Regions from separate parts of the Homo sapiens genome. Here region 1 is linked to region 2. The links come from fine-mapping of genetic effects on gene expression. A gene starts in region 2. The other region holds a variant in brackets. All regions are shown on one strand. Distances are between the middles of the regions.

The links. PIP is the estimated chance that this variant, and not a neighbour inherited with it, causes the effect. A credible set is the group of variants that fine-mapping cannot tell apart.
Region 1: its variant is the best candidate, but not a certain one, in a credible set for the expression of ADORA1 in whole blood (INTERVAL, PIP 0.65).

The regions. Positions count from the first base shown.
Region 1 is chr1:203,087,437-203,090,215 of GRCh38, forward strand. MYOPARR (myogenin promoter associated myogenic regulatory antisense long non coding RNA) reads left to right here. Exons shown (of 3, transcript NR_160550.1): 3 at 1-904. Among named protein-coding and RNA genes, the nearest start is that of MYOG, 2.8 kb to the left of the region's middle. RefSeq lists an enhancer at 1-412. The variant A/G (reference allele first, on the strand shown) is at 1,612.
Region 2 is chr1:203,126,212-203,128,990 of GRCh38, forward strand. It overlaps ADORA1 (adenosine A1 receptor), which reads left to right and starts at 1,515. Exons shown (of 4, transcript NM_000674.3): 1 at 1,515-1,717; 2 at 2,067-2,221; 3 at 2,574-2,779. The coding sequence starts at 2,631. RefSeq lists an enhancer at 1,239-2,219.

The sequences.
Region 1 (2,779 bases), 39 kb before region 2:
TTTTATCCTTTGTTCCCAGTTTTTTCCTCCCCATAGACTAATGTCCTGCTCCTTATCCTACGACAGATCAAACTGACAAGTTCAAGCCAGTGGCAAGGACAATAAGAGGAAGGGGAACCCTGCTGGGGACTCATGGGAGACTTCACAGGGAACATGAGATCTGCGAGGCATGTGAAGAACCAGTGTTCCTTCCTCTCATTATTCACAGCAGGGAGCCAGGAGAATTCTGATGTCCTTTTGGGACAGGAAATGGAGGGAAGGAGGGAACATAGCTGGACAACAAAAGAACCCTAAGCATGTTGAGGGAGAGCAGTGAGGTCTTAATTCTGTTCTTGGCCTTACCAGCATGATAGAAAGTAGCAGCATAGGCCGGGCGTGGTGGCTCATGCCTGTAGTCCTAGCACTTTGGGAGGCCAAGGCGGGTGGATCACGAGGTCAGGAGTTCAAGACCAGCCTGGCCAAGATGGTGAAACCCTGTCTCTACTAAAAATACAAAAATTAGCCAGGCATGGTGGTGGGCACTGTAATCCCAGCTACTTGGGAGGCTGAGGCAGGGAATTACTTGAACTCAGGAGGAGGAGGTTGCAGTGAGCCGAGTTCGCACCACTGTACTCCAGTCTGGGTGACACAGCGAGACTCTGCCTCAAAAAAAAAAAAAAAAAAAAAAAAAAAAAGTAGCAGCATAGGTACTGTGTGGGTTCTAAACTTTGCTTTCCCCTGACCAGCTGGGCTGAAGAAGAGTCTCTATTTCTAACACATCCCCTGCCAAACAAAAAAGAAAAAAAAAGCCTCAGTTTACCCTCCAGTCCTATGAGCCCTGAGAAAAGAAGTCATGTTGAAGCCACTATAGGAACCCCCATATTTGCATCTTTTGTTATTCCAGGATCCAGTGTGACTTACCTCTAAATAATGTGTCTTCTTCCTCTAAAATGGAGGCAGAGCTGGCTTGCTCTATGGTGGTTTCCAGACCTTACTGTCTAGTTGGTGAGCATGGGTTGACATGTGAAAGCTGGATTACAAGACAAGGGAGAGCTATGTTGATTCTACAGCAAACATGGGGGCTTTAATCAATTGCAAACCAGTAGTTTCTTCAAAAGCGTTTTGGGAATTTTTGGGAAGCCAAAACTGCTGAAGACTGGTGCTCTGCAGAAGGCTTGGGGAGCATGCTGGGCCAGCTCTTGGAGAACTGGTAGGATTCAGATGAGGAGAGGGGAGCAGGGGAAGGGGACGTTGGGTAGGCTGTTTGTATGGAGCTTGGGGTTCAGGTAAGGGGGTGATTTGAGACAAACTTGCACAGAGGGGAGGAGGCCCAGCTGGGCAGGGAAGGACTTGAGAGCTGAGGCAAGGAGACCGCACAGAACAGTGTGATGGTCATCCAGGAATGAGATGATGAAGGTCTGAACAACCTCTTCAGAGGCAGGAGGATGGATTCGACTGGGAGAGGGTGCATGTTTCAGGCTAGCAAAGGATGGCGAGTATGCAAGCAATAGGGGAATGGCTGTATTAAATGATAGGGTACTTGGCACATGGATACACCTGGTAAATGTTATTCCCTTTTCTTGCTTTGTCTTCTCTTCTACTTCTGTGTGCCCTGCAGGGGACCACAGCAGC[A/G]GGAATGGAGGAGGGAAAACCTGGCTCCACCCCGAATGTGTTTATTCATTCATTCATTTTTTTTTCTATCAAGTACTGTGCATTCAGCACCTTGTGCCAGGTGCTGGGGTTACTAAGACATGCCCTCTCTGCCTTCAGCATGTTCACTGATGAGTAAGGAGAATGAGTACACAAAGTCATCTAACCAAGGTAGAAACAGCAGGCTAGAGAAAGTGCTGACGTAATCCAGAGAAGGAATTTATTAATTCACTCCTTCATCTGCTCAACACATATTTACTGAGAACCCACTCTGTGTCAGTTCCCTGGCTGGGACCTGACCTGGGGCAAGAGCAGTGCCTAGACTCGGCGCTTGCCTGCAGAAGCTCTGTTGGGCATGCATTTGGCCTTGTGTCTGGATGATGTTTGCCTCTGACCAAACATGAGGGCAGAGCCGGGAGGTTAGGGTGACCTTGTGTGCCTGGTTTCTGTGAATCCCTGTCTCTGTGTGTGTTTGTGTATGTCTGAGTACAGTGGTTTGGGGACCACGTCAAAGCCCGATGTGGGGCACAGACCCTCTTGGTCTGAGCTGATAGAGTGACCCAGGTGTCTTTGACCTGTCCATACCCTGATGGGGGGGATTGGCCCTGTACCCATCTTGTTCTTCTCTCAGAGCCGAGCTGTGGAGACGCCTCATCTAGAGGCTTGGTCCTCCTCCCCTTGTACACCCCTCCACCCCCACAAGCTGCCCTCTGATGGATGGGAACACATTGGTGCCAAGCACAGAACAGCCTTTGTGCTCCGCCACCAGCGGCAATCCATCAGCTCCAACCTGACAGCAGGGCGTCCGGCCCTAATCCCCATCCCTGCTGGCTTGGGCACACAGGGCCCCCTGCCCTGACTGTAGCCTCCTCCTCCAGCAGTCCTGCGCCCTCCAGAGGAAGCCCTTATCCCCTACTGGGGCTCCAGGGCCACATTGTTGGCTCCCCAACCCTGACTGTTTCAACTTGATTCTGTCTATTTGCACGCTGGGCTGATGTCATTTGCATGGTAGCGGCTGGATTTCAAAATGCTCAGAAATCCCCTTCACCTGCTCCCTGCTCCTTACTACCCCTTCTGCTGCACACCCAGTCACAGCCCTCTGGCCTTCAGCATCTTCTAGTCCCTGCTGATTTTGCAGGTGGGCTGACCT
Region 2 (2,779 bases):
TCTTCTGACATCTAGTTGAGTGACCATTGGGAAGCTGAGTGTAAACTGAGAGAGAAAGCCTTGAGCCAAAAATGGCTTAAGTCAAGCAAAGGGTGGAGAGGCAGGGGATGGTCGCAAAGGCCTGCATGTCTGGGTGGCAGGGGGAGTAGGCAGGACGTCAGGTGCTGTTGGGCGTGTTGACAAAGTCAGCAGGGGAAGTGCAAGGGGACGAGGAGGAAGGAGAGTTTACACTTCCTAATTTCTCCAACTAGCTTCTAGGGAAGGAATGTAATTTTGCTGTCTGAGGCACTGATTCCTTGCTCCCCCTAAAGGCAGAAATGGAAGTTATTTTTCCCCACAGAGGGCTTCCCCCTCCTCCTCAGAAGACTCAACTGCCCTTCCTCCCTGCCTCCCAGCTACCCAGGTTCCGGGTCCCACATCATTCCTCACTGTGATTCAGTGCAGCCCCCAATGGGAGCAACGTGCCCACCCTCCTCTGGGCAGAACCCTTTTCCTTGCATTCTGAGATCCAGTGAGGGGGGCAGTACCCCCAGAGGCCAGGTTGGGTTGTGGCTAGCTAACATTGGGGTCCCCAGCCTGACTCTCTTTGCCTTCCTAGAACCCTTGCCCAATACCCACAAACAAGGATTTCTCAGGTTGGGATCTCTGCGAGGCATCCATCCATGTCCAGGGTCTGGTCATTAGTTAATATCAGTGGACTGCCTAAACCGAAACTGGCAGAAGGTGGCCAGGGGAGGGGTCTGGACCCAGTGGAGAGAGTCAGGAGCCTGGGATTCTTATTTTGGTCCTGTTAGGATTTGCCCTGTGACCCTCCGGAAGTCCCTTGCTTCCCTGAGCCTGCTTCTTTATCTGTAACATGAGGGGATTGGACTGGATGCCTTATGGCTTAGCGCTGTGCTATGAAGAGGAAGAAGGAGGAAGGAAAAGGAGCGCAGAGCGGGTTACACTGCCAGGAGATCCTGGGAAGCTAGGTCACTTCCCTGAGCCTCAGCATCCTTATCTGCAAAATAGAAATTGCTAATAGACTAAAAGGCAATTCTGAAAGATGGATGAGAAAGGAATATAATGACTCAGGGTAGAGCCTGCAAAACAATATGGGATGAGAAGATGCAGGGACTGGTTTCATGGAGAGAGCAGGGTTTTAGGATTGGGGGAGGGTGCCAGGGCTACCGACTGCTTTGGGAGATCCCAGAGGGGGCATTCTGAAGTCCTGCAGAAGAGATGCTGTGCCGTGAGGGGTGAGGGGTCGCTGGAGGCCAGACCAGGGCTCCCAGGAGTCCTGCATTGAGAAGGGAGAGAGTGGACACAGGAAGGATGCGCCTCTGTCCAGTCCTGAGGCTGGGCGCACACACCAGGCCCTTCGAAAAGCTCACATTTTTTCCAGCTTTTCTCACCCAGTATCACTTCCTTTGTTAAGAGGAGGGGGTGGGGGAGGAGACGGAGGATGAGGAGGGAGGGGCTGGCGGGTGCCGCCGCCGCCCCCGCCCCCTCCCGGTGTGCGGAGCCCGATTGTCACTCAGCTCCTGCGCCGGGGGCGACAGAGCCGCAGGCGCCCGAGTCGAGTCCCAGCCAGCTACCATCCCTCTGGAGCTTACCGGCCGGCCTTGGCTTCCCCAGGAATCCCTGGAGCTAGCGGCTGCTGAAGGCGTCGAGGTGTGGGGGCACTTGGACAGAACAGTCAGGCAGCCGGGAGCTCTGCCAGCTTTGGTGACCTTGGGTAAGTCTGAGTCTCGGTTCACCCCTGGGGCTCCCCAATGGGGGTGCAGGAGAGGGTTGAAAGAAGAGACCGGAATGCCCCCTTGGGGCAGGCCATGGGCAAGGTTCCCCGACAGAGCTGGAACGGGACCAGAGGACTGCTAAGATCCAGGCACCAGACGGGTCTCAAGTGGGTGGGCGCAGGGCAGGTGCGGGCACGCTGGGGAATAGGGAGAAACGCCCCAGCCTTGTCCTGGGCTCCGTCCCCAGACCCACGTCTGCCACCCCAGTCCCAGGTGCGAAACAGGGGCGCTACCTCTTTAAAAGCGTCCGGGGCTGAGTCTCTGCCGTACCATGTGATTGCTTGAAAGGCCGGGCTGGGAGCGCTGCGGCGGGAGCCGGAGGACTATGAGCTGCCGCGCGTTGTCCAGAGCCCAGCCCAGCCCTACCGCGCGCGGCCCGGAGCTCTGTTCCCTGGAACTTTGGGCACTGCCTCTGGGACCCCTGCCGGCCAGCAGGCAGGATGGTGAGCTCCCTGCATCCTGTTCTGTGCACAGGGGTGGGCAGAGCCAGTCATGGGAGACCCCTCTGTGCGTGTGTCTGTGTGTGCGCGCGCGCTGGGAGCTGCCTCACACCTGATAAAAAAGCCAGTGGAGGAGTGAGCGCTGCTATTTTAAGTTGCTGAATGGAACCTCTGGGAATGATAAAGGGAAGGGACAAAGATTAGGCAGAGAAGGGTCCGGGTGCCCCTCCAGCCTGGGTAGGAGCTGCATGTGACAAGTGGGACACATCACAGGGTACCTGGAGTTCCAGGGCAGCCTGAGCTCCCTGCCCCTCCCAGACGGGTCTCCCCATCCCAGGCTTCCCTGACCACACAGGTGCTTGCCTCGTGCCCCTTGGTGCCCGTCTGCTGATGTGCCCAGCCTGTGCCCGCCATGCCGCCCTCCATCTCAGCTTTCCAGGCCGCCTACATCGGCATCGAGGTGCTCATCGCCCTGGTCTCTGTGCCCGGGAACGTGCTGGTGATCTGGGCGGTGAAGGTGAACCAGGCGCTGCGGGATGCCACCTTCTGCTTCATCGTGTC